3 separate regions of the Homo sapiens genome follow, and regions 1 and 3 are each linked to region 2. Evidence: fine-mapped expression QTL. A gene starts in region 2. Each other region holds a variant in brackets. All regions are shown on one strand. Distances are from middle to middle. Region 1 has its middle 88 kb from the start of POMZP3. Region 2 holds the start of FGL2 (fibrinogen like 2). Region 3 overlaps CCDC146 (coiled-coil domain containing 146).

Region 1 (8,320 bases), 480 kb after region 2:
AAATTAAGGAGTCAGAGGTGGAGGTGGGAATATGAGAAGGTGTTTTTGGTTTTTGGTTTTTATTTGGTCATAGTCTGTGCCTATGGTTCTCAAAATTTCTAATATGAATTCTTTAGAATATATGAACTATACCTATTCAAATTCTACAGCAAAATATTAATCTGCATGTCTAGGTATGATATAAGAGGAAAGTTTCATTTTTTCTTCATCTATATATTCTAATTTTTCCCCTATGACCATATGTTTCTAACATAAATATGAGTTATAAAATATTTATAATGATTTGTTGATCATAGTTGGAGTAAAGTTAGCAAATCTTAATGTAAACCTTTTAATACAGCTGAAATATTATCTCAGAGCTAGCATTATTGACAGGTCAATTTATTTTTTGTTTATGAAGATATTATTTCTAAAGAATATATCATGTTAAAGTTAATTTTGCTTTTGATCATGTAAAGCTAACTGACAAGACTGACTTGCACTCCCACTTCAGATAACTAAGACACAGAAAAAGCATTATAAAAAAAAAAACTCCAGACATTTGAAAGCAAGCTGAACTGGAATTTTTTATATTAATAGGAGGCAAAAGAATCATAGCATGAACTTTATGATTACCATAGCTTCCTAACTGGAGGCACTAGACCATTGTGATAACAATAGCACAAGGAAGAGTAGGGAAAAATAAGTAAACTATTATAAGTTTGATTAATGTGAAGTGATATAACAGTGCTTGGTGGTAGAATTGATAAATTAAAGATGAGTGCTTTAAACCTTAGAGCAAATACACACATATACACACACAGCTAACATATAAATCACTAGGGGAGACAAAATATAATTATAAAAAATATCGAATTAAAAGAAGGCAAAGGAGCAAAACAAAAACAAGAAAAAGACATAGAAAACTTACTTATCTAACTATCTAATTATTATTCATTACATTAAGTGTAAATGGATCAAACACTCCAAATAAAAGGCAGAGTTTATTCAGACCAGGTAAAACAGCAAGACCCAAATGTATGCTCATACAAGAAATTTACTTTAGGTAAAAAGAAACAGATAATTTACAATAACAGATGGAAAAATATATATTATACAGACACTAAGCATAAAACTTTTGGAATGATTGTATTGACATCAAAGTACACTACATTCCAAGGAAAATTGCCAAGGATAAAGAGGTAAATTTCATGATAACAAAGGTTTAAATAATCAAGGAAGAATAAAAATCTTTATTAACTTATCTAAATGTGTATGCATCTAATAAAAGAAACTCAAAGTACATGAAACAAATATTGATAGACCTGAATGAAGAAATAGACATATCCACATTGATAGTTGCAGATTTCAACATTCTTTTTCAATAAGTGATAGCATAAGTAGACAAAAATCAGTAAAGATACAGATAACTCAAAAATACTTGAGATAGTATTGAAAAATACTTCTAAATTGTATTTTTTAACAAGAAAGTTGAAAATACTATCAACCAACTTTACCTATTGCAACTGATAGGTCTATATAAAGCACTACTTAAGAGCAGGAAAAGATATATTATTTTTAGTGTACATAATACATCCTCTAAGTTATATCATAAACTTTTCAAGTGTGTTAAGAAATTAAAAATATTGATATATTATAAAACATGGTCTCTGAACACAAAATAATTATGTTAGGAATCAGTAGAAATATGTAGAAAATCAACAAATATTTGGAAATTAAACAATATCCCTGTAAAACATAATTTCTCATAAATAATTTGAACTAAATAAAAATAAGAACACAACTTTAAAATGTGTAGGATACAGGTAAGGCTGTTTCCTTAGAGGAAAATGTGTTGCTTAAAATGCTTTATAACCTGGAAAAATGAGAGCAAATTAAACTCAAAATGAGTTTAAAGAAAGGAAATATTGACTATAAGGGCAGAAAAATGATCAAATGGAAAGCAGGTAATAGAAAAATAAGTGAAAGCAAAATCTGGTTTTAAGAGAGATCTGGTCAAGAATAGGAGACAATGAAATAACCAGTATCAGGAACAAAGCAGTAGCTCTCACTACAGATCCTACAAACACTGAAAAGATAATAAGGGGCTATGATGAACAAATATATCCTACTAAAATTTCCAACTTTGATGAGATGTACAAATTCATTCAAAGGTACAAAATTTAAAAATTTGAGATAAAGGAAAAAAAAGAACAACCAAAGCCCTGTCCTAATATATAGATACATTGAATCCATAGTTAAGTTTTTCCTATAAACAGTAGTCTAAGCTCATATGGCTTAAGAGATTTCAGTCAATATCAATTATATACAAAGTCTTCTAGAAAATAGAAGAGGGGAAGAATCCCTGCTTATTTCACAAGATAAGCATGTGCTTGTATGAAAACCAGACCAATACCCCTCAAAAACACAGAATTAAAAATCCTTAACAAAATATCAAATATATACCAATTGAGGTATATCTCAGGAATAAACAGCTGACTTAATATTTGAAAAATAATCAGTGTAATCTAATATATTAACAGAATAAAAGAGAAAAACCACTTTATCATGTTAATATATGGAGAAACAAATTTTGAAAAAAGTGCAGCACTGTTACGGGAAGTCAGGGACCCTGAACGGAGGGACCTGTTGGAGCTGCGGCTGAGGAACATAAATTGTGAAGATTTCATGGACATTTATCAGTTCCCAAAATTAATACTTTTATAGTTTCTTAACGCCTGTTTTTACTGCAATCTCTGAATATAAATTGTGAAGATTTGATGGACATTTGTCACTTCCCTAATAATACTCTTATAATTTCTTATGCCTGTCTTTACTTTAATCTCTTAATCCTGTTATCTTCGTAAGCTGAGAATGTATGTCACCTCGGGACCACTATTGTAGAAATCTGATTGTAAAACATGTGTGTTTGAACAATATGAAATCAGTGCACCCTGAAAACGAACAGAATAACAGCGATTTTAGGGAACAAGGGAAGACAACCATAAGGTCTGACTGCCTGCGGAGTCGGGCAAAAAGAGCCATATTTTTCTTCTTGCAGAGAGCCTATAAATGGACATGCAAGTAGGAGAGATATTGCTAAATTGTTTTCCTAGCAAGGAATATAATACTAACACCCTAGGAAAAGAATGGAATCCCTGGGGGGTGGTCTATAAATGGCTGCTCTGGGAGTGTCTGTCTTATGCAGTTGAGATAAGGACTGAAATATGCCCTGGTCTCCTGCAGTACCCTCAGGCTTATTAGGGTGGGGAAGAAACCTCACCCTGGTAAATTTGAGGTCAGACTGGTTCTCTGCTCTCGAACTCTGTTTTCTGTTGTTTAAGATGTTTATCAAGACAATATGCGCACAGCTGAACATAGACCCTCATCAGTAATTCTGATTTTGCCCTTTGCCTTGTGATCTTTGCTTTACCCTTTGCATTGTGATCTTTATTGCCCTTTAAAGCATGTGATCTTTGTGACCTACTCCCTGTTTGTACACCCCCTCCCCTTTTCAAGTCCTTAATAAAAACCTGCTGGTTTTGTGGCTCGGGTGGACATCACGGACCTACCAATATGTGATGTCATCCCTGGAGGCCTAGCTGTAAAATTCCTCTCTTTGTACTGTTTCTCTTTATTTCTCAGGCTGACCTACACTTAGGGAAAATAGAAAGAACCTAGGTTGAAATACTGGGGGCAGGTTCCCCTGATACAGCACTCATTTAAGTTTAAAAATATCAGCATACTAGGCTTAGAGAAAAAATTTCTCAACCTAATGAAAGGTATGTATGTAAAACTTACAGTGACCATTATACTTAGTAGTGGAATTCTGAATGCTTCCTTCTATGATAGAGAACACGGCAAGATAGCTGTTTTCTCTAATTCTATTCAGTGTTATAGTGGAGGGTCTAGCCTGTGCAAGAAGAAAAGAAAAATGAAATAAAAGATACATATATTAGAAGGCATTAATAAAACTGTCCTTGTGAAGAGATGACATGATTGTGTATATAGGACATTATAAAGAATCATCATCAACAATAACCAAAATGTTTAAAATAAATGAGTTTAACAAGATCTTAGGATAAAAGAGCAATATATAAAAAGCAAGTGTATTTCTAAACTAGCAAGACATAATTAGAAAATACAATTTCAAGTAAAATATACCATTTATAATGGCATACAAAAACATGGAATATTTAGGAATACATTTAACAGAATATATTCAAGATGTACACAGTGAATAACTGAAAACACTGTTGGAACAATTAAAAGATACTTTAAATATAAGTGAAATGTAAATTAGTATATAGATGCTATACAATCCCAGTAAAAATTCAGTCATGCTTTTTAAAACAATTGACAAGCTGTTGAGTGCAGTGGTTCATGCCTGCAATCCCAACGTTTTGGGAAGCAGAGGCAGGTGACTTGCTTGACCCCAGGAATTTGACCAGCCTGGGGCAACATAGGGAGACCCCTTCTCTATGAAAAAAAAAAATTAGTTGGGAATGGTGTCATGGGCCTGTGATCCCAGCTGCTCAGGAGGCTGGGGTCAAAGGATTGCTTGAGCCTGGGAGGTTGAGGCTGAAGTGAGCTGCTATTGCACCACAGCACTCCAGCCTGGGTGACAGAGCAAGATGCTGTCTCAAAAAAAAAAAAAAAAAAAA[G/AG]GGAAAAAAAGAAAAGAAAAGCAGTGACAAACTGTTTCTAAAATTTTTATGAAAATGCAAACACCTAAAATAGCTGAAGCCATTTTCAGAAGGAAGTTGTATTGCCTTATTTTAATACTTATTTAAAAAGCTACAGTAATCAAAACAGTGTAGCATTGTTGTAAGGATTCAGGTAGATCAATGCAACAGAATTAAGAGTTTAGAAATAGACACTTTCATAGTAAATAGATTTTTTAAAAAAGATATTGCATTTATTCAATGGGGAAAAATAATCTTTTTAAAAAATTCCTATCCCTGTGGAAAAAATGAACCATAACCCATACCTCATGCCATACACAGAAATAAACTCAAAAACTTTAGAAAGCTTAAAATTTCCAGAAGAAAACATAGGACAAAATTATTGCGATCTTTTATTAGGTAAATGTTACTTAGATGAGATGCAAAAAACTGTAAATAAAAAGAACTGATAAGCTTGATTTCATCAAAATTAATACAGCACTTCTCTTCTTTGAAGACTACCATCAAGAAGATAAAAAGGCAACCTAAAGATGAGGTGGACATATTTGCATTGCATATATCTGACAAAGGACTTATATTCAAAATATAAAAATCATTCTTACAATTCAGTAAGAAAACTAGCAACCAGATTTTTTTTTAATGGGCAAAATAGTTGACTAAATATTTTACCGAAAAAGATACATTCATGACTAACAAACACAAAACAAGAGGTTCACTCTTTCTAGGCCTTACAGAAATAAAAGTAAAACCACAATGAGATATTGCTCTATACCTACTAGAATGGCTAAAATTAAAACTATTGAAAATAGCAAGTGTTTTCAAGGTTGTGGAGCAACTGTAAGTCTCATATGTTGCTGGTAGGAATATAAAATTGAATAGCCACTGGGGAGATCAGTTTGTCCATTTTTTGACAATACACCAAATCAACTCTACTACTAATTATTTACCTAAGAGACATGAAATTCCTTGCACTGAAATGTTTACAGAAGCTTTGTTTTCAATAGGCAAAAAAACCCTGTAGACCATACTAATGTCCATCAACGAGCGAGCAAGTGGGTGGAGAAACAAGATGTAGTATATGCGTATGATGAAATATTACTAACAGTTAAAAAAAAAAGACCACTAAGTTACCCCAACCACATGAACAAATATAAGAAGCATTATGGCAAGCTAAGGAAGCTGTGCACTACATGATTTTATTTACATGACATTCTAGATCAAGAAAAATTAATCTATAGTGACATAAAGCTTATCGTGATGTCTAAAGTAAAAGGTTGGAGAATGACAGCAAATAAATACAAGGGAAGTTTCTGGGTGATGGAAATGTTCTATGAACTTGATTGTGATGCTGATTACACTAGTGTTGTCAAAGCTCATCTAACTGTTATTCTAAGTAAATTTTATAAAAATTATACAAAAAACTTGATTAGAGAAGAGTATATTATTTAAACTCATAAAAGAGACAAAAAGAACTGTGTGATTTGGTGCTAGTCCCTTTTTCTCTATAGGTCATTTCCTTCTATGTTCCAAGAAGAAAAGTTCAATTAGAAAATATTCAAGACTCATCATATGACATGTTGCTTAAAAAATTATTACATTTTTCCTATTTTTATCTCCAGAGGAGAAAGCTTGATACAGAAAACAGAGATGGTCTTGGATCAGAATAAACATTTGGGTTCTCACACATTTGCCTGGTGAGAGAAAATTTAACCTTTTATGGTTGGAATTTCCTTATCTACAAAATTAGATGCAGATAAACACCTATACTTTATGAATTTGTTGTGAAAAACCAAGTGATCAAAAAAATTAATGTAAGTCCTTGGCCCTCAGAGGCTACTGAATAGATAAAAGTTCCCCTCCCCTTTCACTGCAGAAAATTTCAAGATTCAAAACCAAAGTAAAGTTAAATAGAATACCAACTATGTACCCTTATCAACTGAATCCTCCAGAGAGGACATTTGAGTTTCTATAAAAGATCTCATCTTCTACTAACTGTCTTTGCAGATGCTCTGAGTGTAGCACCTGTCATACTGCTGAGGGTGAGAAGACAAGCATTGTGGAATGGCACAGCAGTGGGAATAAGAGAGGCCATCCTAAGGGAGCCTTCACTTTGTGCTGGTTTCTCACGCTCAGTACCCTTGGACAGCTGAACCACATGAATCTTTTCTTACTCTCTGACTCAACGGAAGGACTCCCAAATGAGCTATAAAAGTTATTTAGTGCACTTTCTTGGGTATCTCATATGTGTAGTTGAATATAGGGCAGCGTAGGAAATTCACATTAAAAACAAAAAAACCTACTTTGATTTTGCTTTGGTTACCTTTCTTGTAAATTAAAAAATAAAATAAAATCCCTAGCCAGTTGCATCTATTGAAGCCCTGATGCCACAGGTAGAATGATTTAGTATCTTAAGACCCTTGTGGGACACAAAATGTGACATTTTCTTAGACACACAACAATATTTTCTTTATGAGCAAAGACTTAAGGCCTTTACCATATCACAAGAGGACAAAAGAGTTTAAATGAAACTTCAATGATAAACCAAACGAGGTCAGAAAAAGGTAGATATTTCCAAACTCAACTACCACCTATGGACAGAGAACATTTCACACCTAAGGTATCAGCCAACCACTGCCAATGGGGTACTTTAAATAACTCCTCTAGGGCCAATTTAAAAGGGTAAACATGAGAGAAGCTTTTATTAATGTTTCCCTTCATCACAAAAGCAATTTCCCACTGTCATCTGAGCTTTTTACGATGGCCCACTACCAGCACAAGCCATTTTAGTTTACCTCTGACTGTGCACAAGGCAGAAACGAAAACAAATCAAATAATTAAAATGGTCAAAAATATACCATTTCAAAATGGCTCAATTATTTTAAAAAATTTATAAGAGCCTGCTTTTCTGAAGAGGGAAAAATGCAAAGGAGGAACAGAGCAGTGGCTTTCTCTTCTTCTCCAAATAAGCCAAACAACCTAAAATCTTCTCTTCTAGGGATATTTCAAGGTCTTCTGCTGTGACTACTAAACCAGCTGTTCATATCTTCATCTTTCCACCTCTAAGTAATATCCTTAGTGATAATCATGGGTCCCAGTGCTTTTAGGACTAGAAAGCTTTCTGACTGATTAAAAAATTTATACTGGTTGATCATGGTGAGAAATGAAGATTCTCCTTATTCGAGTGTAAGAATAATGAATCAGCCTCTTGTTTCTCTGTTGAGGGCGGTATTGTTAGAAATTTGATTATAAAAGAAACTATGTGTTAACTATTGTAGGGTGGGTTCTGGCAGAAATAGGGTTAATTTTCTTTCCCCTGAGCCAGTAGCTCCCACACCTGTCAACCATCAAGGCTGGGCTTGCCAAGAACCTAGGAGTGAATGGGCATGGGCACAGCTGTAGCAAATTAGAGTATCCTGAGGAGGTCCAGCATAAAAGATGTGAACTTTTGCATGTCTCTGTGGGGTTTTGACTGATCCAACAACTATGTTGCTATGGGAATCAAGAGTGGTAGGAGCCTCAGAGGCTTAGCAATATATAATATGTATTCCCGTCCCTTAGCAATATATAATATATATTCCCTTCCCTTAGTAATAATATATAATATGTAAAATTGGATATGTGCTTATATTTGTGTGTGTATCTATTTTTCATAATGCCCT
Region 2 (8,320 bases):
TTGCTACTTTAAAATCCCACCATGTATTGGTGTTAAATAATTTGCTTAAATCTAAAAACAAGTCTGTAAGTGAGTGTAATGTGTCAGTGCTGGGTCAAGGACAGATTCAGGGTAGTAAGGAAGATTCTGACACCGCCATGAGGAATAAGCAGCCGATACTAGGAGTCAGGGTAGACTCAGCATGAGAGAATCCAGAAGGGCTTTCAGCAAGAGAGAAGAGGCAGAAGGTCAAGTCATGAGGTGGGAACTCCTAGTAGTGAAGGACAAGTCAGCTCTTCAGGTTTCGATTTTCTGATGGCCTAGTCCTGCTTGAAACCCTCCCTTTTCCTGGTATTCATGACGCTCCTGTACTCTCCTGGTTCTCATCCTATTTCTTTGACCATCTTTTTGATTCCCGTGATTTCAAATTAACATCCACATCTATTCTGTGTCAATATTCATACCTAGATGTGCCACCACTCTTTGCTTGATATTTGCATTTGGTGGCTTGTCAATGCTTAAAACCCAGTGTACTGAAAACAGAAATACTACTACACTCTCCCCAACCTACTGCTACCTCTGTCATTAGCATGCTATCATTTAACTGCAATCAGAGGCAAATTTCAGAGTTGTCCCTCTCTTTCCAGTTCTCACCACTTATCAGATCCCATGGCTTCTATCATGCCTTGGTAATAATGCCTCCATCTCCTTTCCTACCCCTCCTGCCTCCACACTGGTTCACCTCTTATCTAGTGCCTGCTACCACACTACTAGCTCTCACCTAAAATGCCATTTCCCACTGATTTGCAGCAGAAGATTCATTCCTAAAATAGTCCTGGGGGGGGGGGGGGCAAGTATTTTATTTTCCTTGCTCAAAAACCTTTAGTGGCTCTCCATTGATCTAAGCATTGCTTTAAGCACAGGCTCTCCACATAGTTCTCACATACCCTCCCCATGTTATCTTTCCTCCTACGTGGCAATGTGGCAAAGAGAAAAGATATGAACTTTGAATCAGATACAGGTTCAAATTCCAGCTGTCTCTTAAAAACTCTAAAACAGAAACTGAAAACTGTAAAATGACCAGACAAGTCATTTATTGCTTTGAGCCCTTTCTTTGCTCATCTGCAAGTGCAGGGAGGAACCGTAGAGGCGGTACAACACTCTCTGCCCTCCATGAGTTATACACTCATTAGGGGAGTTGAGCCTCTTTTCATGCAGTAGTCACTTAGCATCTGCCTTCCAGTCAGTGGCCAAATGACTTTCTAAACCGAGAACCTAGCAGGTCACCTGTCAGTGTCAATGAAACTGGTCAACAGAGGAGTTCTCTACCCTTATGTCAGGGAATTTTTTATGCATTCTGAAGGGACAGAAGCCAGTTCTCAAAGCACATCCAAGCTTTTTAGGGGAAACTGTGCCATTGGCCCTTGGTTAACTGGGGTGTGACCAGCCAAAAATTAGCAGCAGTGCTTGACACGCACATTTCTGATTCAAACAGATGAACCAAAAGCCCACTGCAAGAGTCCAAAAGCTGTACTTCTGTTAGGTTTAGAAACTTTAAAAAGTACTTAAGATTTCATTTCAAAGTCCAACGTGAAGAAAATACCAGGTCTTTAATGCCCCTTTCTAAGAAGGAAAAAGGGATTTTTGTCTGATTTGTTCACCAGTGTGGCCCAAGTGCCTAGAATAGCGGTTTTGCATGCAGAGGGTGCAGAGTCAATTTATGATGAATAAATATATAGTATATCAATATATGTATGAGGAATAAATGAATGAAAGTGCCTGTGGCACGCATCTTATATATGCTCTAGCATAGTGCTGAGTATACAGAAGATCCTTAATAAATACTTTACTAACTAAATGCAGGGATTTATACTCTAGTCAGTCAAGGACATTTCACAATATCCTTAAGGACTAGGAACTAAATATCATTCCTATATATTTCTACTTTACAAAATGGTTTTTTTTTTTATCTATGTTGTCATCATGTCTCCTTTTTAAAATTATCTATTGTTTCATTTATTTCTTACCTCCCAACAGGGAAGTGTCACAGCTTGAAAATAGGTGAGAAGAAATGAGGTTAGGAGTTAGGGGATTAAATAGATATTTTTAGCTAAAAAGTTTTTGTCTAAAATTGGATATATTGAATGGAATGAAGAGAAAAACAATTTTTGAAAGAGCTATATGAAGATGGAAGAAAAAAAGTCATAAGGTGTGTAGAACATGTTTGACAAATTTATTTGGGAAGAATGTTACATTTATACACTGCATTTTTTTTTTTCTTAAGTGCTCTAAGTTTTTTTTTTCTTTTTTTGTGAGGGGTGGGGCTGGGGGATGGAGTTTCACTCTTATTGCCCAGGCTGGAGTGCAGTGGTACGATCTAGGCTCACTGCAACCTCCACCTCCTGGGTTCAAGTGATTCTCCTGCCTCAGCCTCCCGAGTAGCTGGGATTACAGGCACACGCCACCATACCTGGCTAATTTTTTTTTTTTTTTTTGTATTTTTAGTAGAGATGGGGTTTCACCATGTTGGCCAGGTTGGTCTCAAACTCCTGATCTCAGGTGATCCACATGCCTCGGCCTCCCAATGTGTTGGGATTACAGGCGTGAGCCACCACGCCCAGCCAAGTGCTCCAAGTTTGCATGACTATCATTCCTGTATGAGGGAAGAAATAGCTAAATTCCTCCGCTACAGCTACAGGAACAAAGGCTCATTAAAGCTGATGATCTGTTTACATGATCAGAGGTAGATCTAGGGTTGGAAGCCAGGTCTCCTGAGTATGCGAGAATAAATACAGTCATGGAAGAGTAAAGAGTCTGCCAACATTTTGAGAATGTGAATAGGATTTGGCTAAAATTAAGGGGATATACAGAAAAGTCATAGGAAATCAGGTTAAAGACATAAATATGAGATAGGCTACAGAGTGTTTTAAGTAATACAATAAAACATTTAGATTTTTGCCCATGTCAGTCATTTTGAAATTATTTTTAAAGCAAAAAAACCCTTTTTAAACAAGAAATCTTATGAGATGTCAATATGCAAAACAAATTAAAAGGAGGTGGTTTCTCTAACTGAAGCTGTTCCTCTTTCCTGCCTTCAGCCTCTGAAGAGAAAGTTAGAAAACTATTATCATTAATGCTACATGTTTTGAACAAGCTGATATACCAAGTGGCCCAGAGAGCAGGTAGAAGAACCAGCGTGGAGACAGAAAGCAAGAGGCCCGCCTGCCAGGGCTACCTGCAGAAAGAAAGGGCAAAGATGCTGTAGGCAAGAGAAGTTCAGGACAGACACTGGCATAGCTCAAAGATTCACATTTGAGCAGCTGTGGAAGATGACAGTACAATTACCAAAATGTCGAAGGGCAAAGGAGGCAGCTACTGGTTTTGATGAAAGACAATTATGTCCTTTTAAATGGGTCTTAGACATTTAGACATTAATATACACTATGCTACGGACAAAGGAATAGAAAGTAGCACTTTTTTCTCCACTAGTTTTCTTCTCTTTTTCAAGTAGATGAAGCAAAAGTCAACTGCAATAGTCAGAAAGCTGTACTTTGTTACACTTAGAAACTTCTAAAAGTGCTTAAGATTTCACCTGAAAGTCCAACATGAAGAAAATACAGGCTCCCCAATGCCCCATTCTAAGAAGGAAAAAGGACCATTTTCATTTTAGTAACGTTTCTGTTCTATAGACAGTTTGGATAACTAGCTCTTACTTTTTATCTTTAAAAACTGTTTTTCCAGTGAAGTTACGTATAATTATTTACTTCAAGCGTAAGTATACCAAATTACTTTAGAAATGCAAGACTTTTCTTATACTTCATAAAATACATTATGAAAGTGAATCTTGTTGGCTGTGTACATTTGACTATAATAATTTCAATGCATATTATTTCTATTGAGAGTAAGTTACAGTTTTTGGCAAACTGCGTTTGATGAGGGCTATCTCCTCTTCCTGTGCGTTTCTAAAACTTGTGATGCAAACGCTCCCACCCTTTCCTGGGAACACAGAAAGCCTGACTCAGGCAGCTGCCGCTATTAAAGCAGCTCCAGCCCTGCGCACTCCCTGCTGGGGTGAGCAGCACTGTAAAGATGAAGCTGGCTAACTGGTACTGGCTGAGCTCAGCTGTTCTTGCCACTTACGGTTTTTTGGTTGTGGCAAACAATGAAACAGAGGAAATTAAAGATGAAAGAGCAAAGGATGTCTGCCCAGTGAGACTAGAAAGCAGAGGGAAATGCGAAGAGGCAGGGGAGTGCCCCTACCAGGTAAGCCTGCCCCCCTTGACTATTCAGCTCCCGAAGCAATTCAGCAGGATCGAGGAGGTGTTCAAAGAAGTCCAAAACCTCAAGGAAATCGTAAATAGTCTAAAGAAATCTTGCCAAGACTGCAAGCTGCAGGCTGATGACAACGGAGACCCAGGCAGAAACGGACTGTTGTTACCCAGTACAGGAGCCCCGGGAGAGGTTGGTGATAACAGAGTTAGAGAATTAGAGAGTGAGGTTAACAAGCTGTCCTCTGAGCTAAAGAATGCCAAAGAGGAGATCAATGTACTTCATGGTCGCCTGGAGAAGCTGAATCTTGTAAATATGAACAACATAGAAAATTATGTTGACAGCAAAGTGGCAAATCTAACATTTGTTGTCAATAGTTTGGATGGCAAATGTTCAAAGTGTCCCAGCCAAGAACAAATACAGTCACGTCCAGGTATGTATAATAATGTTTTCTTATCATATGTTCATAAATGTTATACAGCTAGAGAGTATCTATAAACATTAACCTGAGTCAGTAAGTTAAATAGATGACAGATTAAGTCTTTTATTTATCAAGGTGCACAGGAAAAAATAAATATCTTCTCAAATATGACCACATAAATATGACCTAATTACAAAAATCATAGTTAGTTCTGTATCCACTGGAAGTCACTTTCAATTTTAAGATCTTATTTGTTAATGCCAGACCTACTTGCAAGCAGAAGTAGAGAGAATTTCTTGATGTTTTAGTGCATTTAACTTGTCTCTTCAATGAGGTGTTTGAAAACAATAAAGATAAGGCGATGTTCACAATTGTGCCTTGTTTGTTGGAAATCAGTTTTTCTTGTGATTGACTGACTGCCGCTTCTCATGGCTAAAGAGGTCTTTGAAAGATTTTAGCAAGTAATCTAGTTCTTAATCCCAAATATCTGGAGAAAATGGGAGAGTTTACAGATGGAATAAAAGCAGTTTCATATGTGTGCACAAATTTTTGCTTTGAGACCTAGTGGCACAAAAAATATTTTAAGGGGAGAGTTTTAGCATGCCACTAAGGGAAGGTATTCATATTTCTTTCTCTTTTACCTGAAGTTAGAATTCAAGCAGATAGAAGTAGAACCCATCCTCACCATCCAAATTACTTGAATTAACTTTAATAAATACATGTGAAATTCCACAGACTTAATCGCCTACTCCACCCACGAACTAACAGTGGTATTGACTCTCCAAACCTTGGCTTTTCACCTGAGTCACTGGGACCACTGTTGCTGACTGTCTCATACTTTGGAAAGCCATCTCCGCATTTGGACCTCTACTTACCATGAACGTGAGGTTGAAAGGACAGGGCGGAGATCACTTTCATTTAGAGACAGTATCTCAGGCATGCTCCATCCCCAGGGCATCTGCCAGTGAAGGAGGGAAGGGTCATATTTTCAAGGACCTCTATTGGTAATACTCCTGGCAGCCTGCATCTGAATGTACCTGGCACACTGCGAATCCAAGGTTCACCGCTTAGGTGACATCAGTGGGTATACATTAGATTAGATGCTGCATGGCAACTTGTCATGATATGAAGACTATTGTCTATTTTTCTCCTAAACATTTTGGGTGAAATAACTGAATATTCTGAGCTCTAAATATACAGGAATAGATTTTTATGCCTTAGGGTATCTCATATTAAACTTACCTTATTTGTCACACATTTTAATAAAAACTATCTGGGAGTAAATATCTGTCTGATTCATACAGAACTTTGTTAACTGATTATTATGCTTATCCTCAATATAGTCACCTGTTGTTTCTTTCTAGAAACCCAACATGTGAAATAGTGGCTAAATACTTTCCTAGATAATAAATACAGAATAAGAATATTGGTGTGTCATTGAAAAAGATACTTCTTTTTCACTTGAGCTTCTTTATATAGTTGTCAAGTGAAATGAATATGAATTTATGATCAATCCTATGCATTAGGATTTTAACACATCATTTGGAATATATGCTATAAAACCTTCTGACAGTAGAGGCTATCAGCCCCTTTAGGTGAAAGAAAATAGAAGCCTGTGCTTCCTCTGTATGCAAGGAATACAGTTCTAGGAGAGTTAGAATCATCTGATTTTTAGGACCAAGGGATGCAATGATTACGAGAACAAAGCTTTGCTGCCAGCCAGATCTGAGTTAGTGTCCTGGCTCTGCCACTTAAAGCTCAGGTGAAGGTGGGCAAGCCACTGATCTTTATGCCTAAATATCCTCACATGCAGACTGGCAGTAACGCCTACATCATAAGGTCAATGTTCAGATTCAGTGTGAAAATGTTACCCAGTCTGGCAGCATGCCTAGAACGTATAGGTAGGCCTCACTACATAATACTAAATTATTAAAACTGTACTTTTATTATTTTCTTATTGTCGTTTGCTGTTGATGCTGTCATTATTACTACCAACCAAGAGTATATTAGAGGTCCTTTCTGCTTTATAACATTAGGTTCTTCTTGTGAGGCCTTAAGCATTTGCTAAACAGGTTCAAGTAAGTTTAGTAAAGTTTCATTACTGCCATTGATTCAATTATCAAACTGCTTTTGTACATATAAAGAATTCTTCAGATGCATGGTTTCTATTAACAAGATCCAATGCCTTCCTTTTATTTCCCCTTCAGTTCAACATCTAATATATAAAGATTGCTCTGACTACTACGCAATAGGCAAAAGAAGCAGTGAGACCTACAGAGTTACACCTGATCCCAAAAATAGTAGCTTTGAAGTTTACTGTGACATGGAGACCATGGGGGGAGGCTGGACAGTGCTGCAGGCACGTCTCGATGGGAGCACCAACTTCACCAGAACATGGCAAGACTACAAAGCAGGCTTTGGAAACCTCAGAAGGGAATTTTGGCTGGGGAACGATAAAATTCATCTTCTGACCAAGAGTAAGGAAATGATTCTGAGAATAGATCTTGAAGACTTTAATGGTGTCGAACTATATGCCTTGTATGATCAGTTTTATGTGGCTAATGAGTTTCTCAAATATCGTTTACACGTTGGTAACTATAATGGCACAGCTGGAGATGCATTACGTTTCAACAAACATTACAACCACGATCTGAAGTTTTTCACCACTCCAGATAAAGACAATGATCGATATCCTTCTGGGAACTGTGGGCTGTACTACAGTTCAGGCTGGTGGTTTGATGCATGTCTTTCTGCAAACTTAAATGGCAAATATTATCACCAAAAATACAGAGGTGTCCGTAATGGGATTTTCTGGGGTACCTGGCCTGGTGTAAGTGAGGCACACCCTGGTGGCTACAAGTCCTCCTTCAAAGAGGCTAAGATGATGATCAGACCCAAGCACTTTAAGCCATAAATCACTCTGTTCATTCCTCCAGGTATTCGTTATCTAATAGGGCAATTAATTCCTTCAGCACTTTAGAATATGCCTTGTTTCATATTTTTCATAGCTAAAAAATGATGTCTGACGGCTAGGTTCTTATGCTACACAGCATTTGAAATAAAGCTGAAAAACAATGCATTTTAAAGGAGTCCTTTGTTGTTATGCTGTTATCCAATGAACACTTGCAAGCAATTAGCAATATTGAGAATTATACATTAGATTTACAATTCTTTTAATTTCTATTGAAACTTTTTCTATTGCTTGTATTACTTGCTGTATTTAAAAAATAATTGTTGGCTGGGTGTGGTAGCTCACGCCTGTAATCCCAGCACTTTGGAATGTCAAGGCAGGCAGATCACTTGAGGTCAGGAGTTTGAGACCAGCCTGGCCAAACATGTGAAACGCTGTCTCTATTAAAAATACAAAAATTAGCCGGGCATGGTGGTACATGCCTGTAATCCTAGCTACTTGGGAGGCTGAGGCAGGAGAATCGCTTGAACCTGAGAGGAAGAGGTTGCAGTGAGCCAAGACTGAGCCACTGCACTCCAGCATGGGTGACAGAGAAAACTCTGTCTCAAACAAAAAAATAATAAAATTTATTCAGTAGGCTGGATTCTACACAAAGTAATCTGTATTTGGGCCATGATTTAAGCACATCTGAAGGTATATCACTCTTTTCAGGCTATAATTATTTGGGTAATCTTCATTCT
Region 3 (8,320 bases), 39 kb before region 2:
ACAGCACACCACAGCAGAAAACTTGAATTGCAATCATTTTCAAATTCAATCTAAATAGTATGACTTGCTGAACAAACTCCTCCAGTGACTTGCTACTCCATGGGGGGAATGTTAGAAGAGATTTTGAAGATAACATTTCCCCTTTTAGCACTTAATGTCTGCTTTAGTTCACTAAATGACGTCCTCTAAATTTGGATAAGTAAATGTGTCTTCCAAAAGGATATACCTTTTCTCCTTGATCCTGAGGAACAATCTAGTAGTAGGAGATGAAGTTTGCATATGTGGTCCTGTTGCTGCTCTCTTAGAAGAATAGAGTGAGCCAGATGACATGTGACCCTCAGCTCATGGAGGCTTGTTTGGAAAATGCATGTGGGGAGAAGTGCTCACCATGCAGATGCGTGCTCTGGTACTGCTATAGTCATGGGATGAGGGGGCCACTGCCAGGGCAGGGGAAGGGCAAGGGAATGCTAATAACTGGTTTGGTGGAGTGTGTTCTCTGACTGCAGCTCTCAATGAGATGGCTTTCCTGACATGAAAAACACAGCAGGCATCTCTGTCACCTGAGCTTTTATTCGAGAAGTGTAACTTTCTTGTTCAGGGAATTCCCATTCCATTCTAAGGAATCAAGAGAACTAGGTTTGCAATCATCATCGTACTGCTATCTCCTACTCCTTCAATTACCTCCAACTTAATCTGATTTTTTTCTATTTATGAGGAAAAGACTTTTCAGTGTGCCGGAGAGAACTGTGCACTTACCTATTTAATCTGTACTGATTATGGAACTCTCTTTCCTTCACTGCATTATATTCATTTTGATACTTGAGAAGTTGTTCTCTCATTTTGGAGACCTCCGTGGAGAATGCTTCTGGAAAATTATCAGCTTGCTGCAGGTGAAACTGCTGCTGTTGTATTTGCTCAGTGAAACGTTTGGCATTCTGTAGCAGTTGGACCTCTGACTCTTGTGTGCTGGGTTACATGAAAAACAGAGACTCACATAATGAGACATGTACATCCTCGGTGGCTCCTGTGGGGGTCTAGTGAGGATAGCTGCTCCCCACTCCTCAGATCAACTCAACTCTGGGACATTTTTGTGCCAAGTCAGTTGACCCTTCATGTCCGTGAGTCCACATCTGTGGATTCAACCAACCACGAGGGAAAATTTTTGTTAAAAAATTGAGTCTGCTTCACCTTTGTGGTATTCTCCTCCAAAACACCTAACTCTGGCCTAAATATGAGAAAAATTCCAAACTGAGAAATGCTCTATAGAATACCTGACTGGCACTCTTAAAACTGTCAACGTGGCCGGGCGCGATGGCTCATGCCTGTAATCCCAGCACTTTGGGAGGCCGAGGCAGGCGGATCACAAGGTCAGGAGATCGAAACCGTTCTGGCTAACACAGTGAAACCCCGTCTCTACTAAAAATACAAAAAATTAGCTGGGCATGGTGGCGGGCGCCTGTAGTCCCAGCTACTCGGGAGGCTGAGGCAGGAGAATGGCGTGAACCCAGGAGGCGGAGCTTGCAGTGAGCCGAGATTGAGCCACTGCACTCCCGCCTGGGCGACAGAGTGAGACTCCATCTCAGCCGAGATTGAGCCACTGCACTCCCGCCTGGGCGACAGAGTGAGACTCCATCTCAAAAAAAAAAAACCCAAAAAAACAAACAAACAAACAAACAAAAAAAAACAAAAAATGTCAACGTGATTTAAAAAAAACAAGGAAAGACTGAGAAATTGTCACAGAGATCAAGGAGAGATGAGGGCTAAATATAGTGGGGTATACTGCATTGGGTCCTGGAACAAAAAAAAGAGCATTAGTGGAAAAACTGTTGAAAATCTGAAGTTTAATTAATAGTAATATACGAATGTTAACTTCCTAGTTTTGATGGACCATGGTTATGTAAGATGCTCCCATTAGAGGAAAATGGGTGAAGGATAGACGGGAACTTCGTATATTATTTTTGCAACTTTTCTATGAATCTAAAATTATTCCAAAATAAAATGTTTACTTAAAAATTGTTTATTTACTGAACATGTACAGACTTTTCTTGTCATGATTGCCTAAACAATACAGCATAACAACCATTTACATAGCATTTATATTGTATTAGGTATCACAAGTAATCTAGAAATGATTTAAAGTATACAGGAGGATGTGATTAAGTTACATGCAAATACTATACCATTTTATATCAGGGACTGGAGTATCCATGGATTTTGGTATCTGCAGGAGGTCCTGGAATCAATCCCCCAAGGATACCAAGAGATGACTGTACTATGCTAGGTGCAAGAGGTGAATAAGGCTTAGCTCCTAGCTTCAAGAATCTTACAATCTGGCAGATGCGGAGGAATACCAGATGACAAGTACTACCGCTGGTGTCCAGATCAAGACAGCAGGAGACAACAGAGAAAGGATCACTCAATGGGAATGTGACATTTGAACTTGACTTTGAAGAATGATTATGACTTACTAGAAGGGGATAAATGATACGGAAAGAGGAGGTTTTCCCTTGAACTCCCCAAACAACCCTAGCTCTCTTGAATTCTTGTAACATAATTGTAGGAAAATCTCTCCCCACTTAGTGAACTATGAAAAAACAGAAACTTTTCTAATGGCACTTTATTAGGAAACTAGGAAGAGAAATTCCCATACGCAATTATGAATATAAATAAATTTACAGATTTCTGATTCTAAATTGGACACTGGTTAGAGCTGGATGGACTTGAAGGTCACGGTAGAGGGAGATTCCTACAACCCCAGTTATATTCTATGACCTTGGCCCTATGTAGGGAAAAGGACTAAACATCTGTCAGAGGATGTAGAAAAAGGACATGGCGGAATCTCCAGTATCTTATAGAACTCCTCTATGCTGCAAGCTAGCATCAGCAAGCATCGGCTCCAACCTTACCAGTAGATATGATTCCTCTTTCCCAGAAACCCTTATATTAGCTACCTCTCCTATTTGAAGTAAGCCCTCACCACTTCCTGTTTTAGAGCCAGAGCTCTCTTTTGATGTATGCTCCCCACCAACTGTCCTCACCAAGATAAATCTTCAAGTTCCAGCTCATTTGCAGAGACGCCCAATGACTTGATCAAGCCAATCTCAACTGAAGTTACCTTGTGTCTGCCTCACCTTTGTGATATTCTCAATTCAGTACAGATACATCCATTTTCCCAGGTTTTATAATGTCATTTGCTCAATAGCATCTAGCAAAACATTTACTGGGACATAACACGTTCCAGGCATGATGTTAGGTACCAAATAGCAACAACAATAGCTACAGTGATACCTCAAATAATTTTCATTAATGAAAGCTGGAATTATTCTCCTATAATTCAATTTTCATGTATGCTAATAAACTTTGTAAATCTAAAGTTATCTGGTCTCCTTAATAGGTCAGGCTTCAGCTATTGAAATTGTAAGCTGTTGGACCAGGCTACAGTGCCTGTTTTTGCATAGAAAGGACAGGGTGGTAGGGTTCCAGCCAGAACACAAATCGCAACTTACCCACATGTATTTAAAACATGATACCAGTAGAAGAGACTTTAACAACTCTTATAACATGGTTTCTATGGAAGACTCATTCAGTTTCAGTTCAATATTTCCAGGCTATATCTGCCCAGCTGTAGTCCTAGCAGCACGAATGAAG[AGT/T]CTACTTCATGTTTTTCCCACCCATCAGGCATTGGGAGTAGGAGAGAATGGTGAGTATTTGCAATGGCATTAGAGGGAACTAAGTGGTCAAGATGTAAAATGTGGGTAGCAGAAGGGAAGTTAACTGTTTTGCAACACAACCTGGAAGAGGAAGAAATAGTGCCATAGCTGAGGTCCTGCATTGCTACTTGTCATTAGGGGCCAGGGAACTGAGTTGTGGGCCAGGGGAGGAGGAAGTTAAGTCAAAGCACCCTGCAAATCTCCACTGGGCTCTAGATAAGAGCTATCCAGGCTGGGCACGGTGGCTCACGCCTGTAATCCCAGCACTTTGGGAGGCCGAGGCGTGAGGATCACAAGGTCAGGAGATTGAGACCATCCTGGCTAACCCAGTGAAACCCCATCTCTACTAAAAATACAAAAAAATTAGCTGGGTGTGGTGGCGGGCTCCTGTAGTCCTAGCTACTCAAGAGTCTGAGGCAGGAGAATGGCGTGAACCTGGGAGGCGGAGCTTGCAGTGAGCCAAGACCAGGCCACTGCACTCCAGCCTGGGTGACAGAGGGAGACTCTGTCTAAAAAAAAAGAAGAGCTATCCAGAGGGCAGGAAACACTGATATTCCTTGTATCTGCAAAGAGGATTGGAGGGATGCCCAGAGAACTGCATGGCATTTCCTCTCAGTTAAGCAGTGTGAAGTATGTTGTAAAAGATTACTCCAGACTTTCCACTTAAAGTCTCAAAATTCCTGAGCCTTGAGAACTCTGAGAACACACTGGCAGGCGTGACCAGCTACGGGGGAATGGAACCTCCATTAGGTGTGGGGGTGAGGACTTGGCTTGGGCTTGAGGATGAGGAACCAAGGCTGGGGGCTTTGGAGGGGTGTGAGGAACCTGGGTGCACTTGAAGTTTGCATAGGAATGCAGCTCTGCTCTTTTCCAAGTTGTTCACTCTTCCCTCATGCTTTTACCCTCAAAGTAGCCAAATATCTCTGGGCAAGATAAGAAGGAGGGGAAGTGATTGGGAATTGCGGGGAGAGGATGGCTGGGGAGTGGCAGCATGGAGTTTCTATCTGTTGCTGTTGCTCCTTGGCTTTTGATGAAGATACAATGCAAGGCCCTGAGACAAGAGGTGGGGGAAGGAAAGAAAGAGGCTTGGGAGTGGTAAAGAATCACAGCACATTAGGGTTTTCCCTCTTTCTTCACTCCCCTGCCCTCTTAATTCCCAGTGGCTAATAGCCAGTGCTCAGGCAGGCTTGCTGGACTCTTCTATGATAGCCTGTTCTTCTGACCTGTTGGTGATTGGGACTTGCAAGGTGTAAGTAGCTTGTGATATGGGGAGGAGGTGAGAAGTACAGACAGGGTCTCAGCAGACTCAAGCTGGGGTTGTTGGAGAATCTACACCTCTGAGTGATGAACAGACACGGGAGAAGAGTCCTGCAGGTGTGTCCTATGCAGAGACTGTCAGTGTCCCACCAGAATCCTTTTGCCCACCTGCAGCTTTAGTGGACAGTTACCATATGTATCAGCAGCACCTGTGTCCCTCCGCCTGAGAGCTGTCTCTGGCCATCAAAGTTTGCTTGGTTTGTCAAAGCGCAAGCTGGAAGTGCCAAGAGCTAATCTCCCTGGAAGTAATTTGTAATAAATGAGTGGTGGAAACTGGTGGGCAAATATTCCAGTTTCCTCACTCTTCAGTGGGAGAGTGCTGAGGTGAGCCACTCAGAGGCTCCTCTGTGAGGCTGAGCCCCAGTAGCCCATCATATAAACTCGCAGATGTACACGGCCTGATCAAGGCTAGATTCCTTCCTTCCCAGTCGCACTTCCCCACTCTCTCACGATGCTTTCTCGTACCACTTCTCAAACTCCCTGAACGCAAATCCTTGCCTCAGGGTCTGCTTATGGGGGAATGCAAATGAAGACAGGTCTCATCACCAGTAAGAAATTTAAAGGTGATTAATCATGTCTCCATATTGGTAAATTGCATACCTCATCACGGCGTCATGCAGCAAGGTATACTTGGCTTTTAACGCTGCCATTCTGGTTCCAGGAAGTTTTCCCATAGCATGTAACTAGCAAAGAGAACATAAGGTCACTGTTAATCACCATTCTCTTTAGGCTTAAGCAGGGGATGGAATGGATATATGGTTATCTTATAAAATCCTCCATTAAACATTAGAGGATACACGAGGCAATGTAGTGTACTGGAAACATGCCAGGTGTTTGGAGAAAATAGTGCTAGTTCTATTCTGCCCCCAGTACATTCTGTGTCCTCAGGCAAGTCTTTTCAACTCCCTAGGCTGTTATTTCTTTGTCTGGAAATTGAGAGGATTGAGTTAAATTCTTCTAACTCTAAAAAAAATTTCAAGGTTTAACAAACAATCTGAATAGTGTAGATTATAGGTTGGCTATTTGTAAGTTGAGAAAATGAATGGTTATTGAACAGCTATTAGAGTATGTGTTGCCCATCAGTTATTTCATTCTTAAAAATGTTGTGAAATAAAGATTATCATCTCCATTTGAAACTAAAGTTTAGAAAAATGATTTGTTCAAGGTTATAGAGCTAGTTAAAGGCAGGGTGAGAATTTAAACCCAAGTGGTTCAGCTCCAAAAACCCACGATCACTCCCCTGTACCGTGATGCCTTTGCCTCTGCTGTCAAAGAAGCATGGAAAGTTTTCCAATGCATAAAGAGGTACTATTTATTCCCATTTTATTTCTAGTTAAAATGACTTTTGATCTGTTTTCTGAGTTAGGTGATAATTAGTTAACAGACATCATAAAACATCGTCAAACACTAAAGTTTTACCATCCTAAAATCATAATGCAATGAGCATTTGTATTAGGTTTGACTTCAACTGCTAGTGACAGTATCAAAATAGAACTAAAGAGAATATTTGTGTTTTTCAGCCCTGTTGTTCTTACATTTATTTATTTATTTATTTATTTATGACGGAGTCTCACTCTGTCGTCCAGGCTGGAATGCAGTGGTGCAATCTCGGCTCACTGCAACCTCTGCCTCCCGGGTTTAAGTGATTCTCGTACCTCAGCCTCCCAAGTAGCTGGGACCACAGGGGCACACCACCACGCCCAGCTAATTTTTTGTATTTTTAGTAGGGATGGGGGTTCACCATGTTAGCCAGGCTGGTCTTGAACTCCTGACCTCAGGTGATCCACCCACCTTGGCCTCGCAAAGTGCTGAAATTACAGGCGTGAAAGCCTGGCCCTTACCTCTAAAGTGCTTATTGAATTCATCCACTTTCCTCTTCCTTCCCTGATCCCACTGGCCCAAGTCTCATCATCTCTCAATTGGACCACTACTAAACCTCCTAACTGCCCTTCTGCCAGGGAGATCTTTTTAAAAATCAGACAAGGTTATGTTATGCTGGGTGATCAAAACACTTCAAGTGGAATAAAATTCAAGACCCTTGGTATTCAAGACCTTGAGGTCCTGCCTGACCCCAACACCCCCACAGCCTCCTTTCACAACACACTCTTTAAGCTCCCAGTGCTTCATTGCTTCTGCCACACTGGCTGCCTTTGATTTCCACAGATGTATGAGTCTCTCTTTTTCTCCAGGGCCTCTGATTAGTCATTCCTTACTCCCCCTACTTCACTCCAAGTCTTTCTTCATGTCTCAGCTTAAATATGAATTCATAAGAAGGCCTTTTCTGACTTCCAAATCTAAAGAAGATAACCACGTGTACTTGCTCCTACCTCTAAAGAACGCTGAGCTTCATAACATTACAATCTGCAAGAATAAATTTACTTACATTATTAAAAACATTTTTATACTTCCCCAGCTAGTATATAAGACCTATGAGGAAAGGGCCCAGATTACCTTGTCCTTCACTGTATCCTCAGCCAAAGTATTACTAGAATCCCAGGCACAGTATAATCCCAGGCACAGTATACCCAGGTGCTAGGTAAATTGCTTATATTTGTTAGCAAATGAATGAATGCAGCTATCAAAATGCAAAAGTCTGAGTCTATACAGTGGGGTTTCGTGGTCTTTCTACCCGCATCAGGGTAGAAAAATGTTAAATGCATTATGAAACCATTTCTTCTTTGTGAAAGTGTTGGGGATCTTTCATGAGGGCCATACTATCTGGTGCCAGGCCTGGCTTCCAATCCCTACAACCCTCATTATTTTTTTAATCTATGGGTGAAATATGGTGAACAAGATCTTTAAGACCTTTGAGGATACTCTACCTGTATCAAATATCTTAAAATCTATTCATATGCCACCTTAAATATAATTTATTTATAACTTTTTTTTTCCCCAGAGATGGATTGTCGCTCTGTTGCCCAGGCTGGAGTACAGTGGCGCTATCTTGGCTCACTGCAACCTCTACCTCCCGGGTTCTAGCAATTCTCCTGCCTCAGCCTCCCAATTAGGTGGGACTACAGGCGCATGCCACCACACCTGGCTAATTTTTTGTATTTTAGTAGAGATGGGGTTTCACCATGTTGCCCAGGCTGGTCTTGAACTCCTGAGCTCAGGCAACCCACCCGCCTTGGCCTCCCAAAGTGTTAGGATTACAGGCGTGAGCCACTGCGCCCGGTCTATTTGTAACTTTTTAACTGTTGAGTTGCTGTTGGTAAGTCGACTTAATGTTACATTTTACAGATATTTATTTTGGTTCTGCAGTATTTTTTAGCCAATATATAATTTATTTCATG

What was found.
Region 1: its variant is fine-mapped to the expression of FGL2 in Th1/17 cells (Schmiedel 2018, PIP 0.95).
Region 3: its variant is fine-mapped to the expression of FGL2 in whole blood (TOPMed, PIP above 0.99).

The regions. Positions count from the first base shown.
Region 1 is chr7:76,711,604-76,719,923 of GRCh38, reverse strand. No RefSeq gene overlaps it. Among named protein-coding and RNA genes, the nearest start is that of POMZP3, 88 kb to the right of the region's middle. The variant G/AG (reference allele first, on the strand shown) is at 4,644.
Region 2 is chr7:77,195,542-77,203,861 of GRCh38, reverse strand. FGL2 (fibrinogen like 2) reads left to right here and starts at 4,043. Exons shown (of 2, transcript NM_006682.3): 1 at 4,043-4,681; 2 at 6,877-8,320. The coding sequence starts at 4,069. The coding sequence ends at 7,583. All of the region lies in intron 2 of CCDC146 (coiled-coil domain containing 146), which reads right to left. RefSeq lists an enhancer at 904-953 and a silencer at 4,343-4,452.
Region 3 is chr7:77,234,337-77,242,656 of GRCh38, reverse strand. CCDC146 (coiled-coil domain containing 146) reads right to left here. Exons shown (of 19, transcript NM_020879.3): 3 at 5,628-5,710; 4 at 757-966. All of the region lies in intron 1 of CCDC146-AS1 (CCDC146 antisense RNA 1), which reads left to right. Among named protein-coding and RNA genes, the nearest start is that of CCDC146-AS1, 10 kb to the left of the region's middle. The variant AGT/T (reference allele first, on the strand shown) is at 3,649.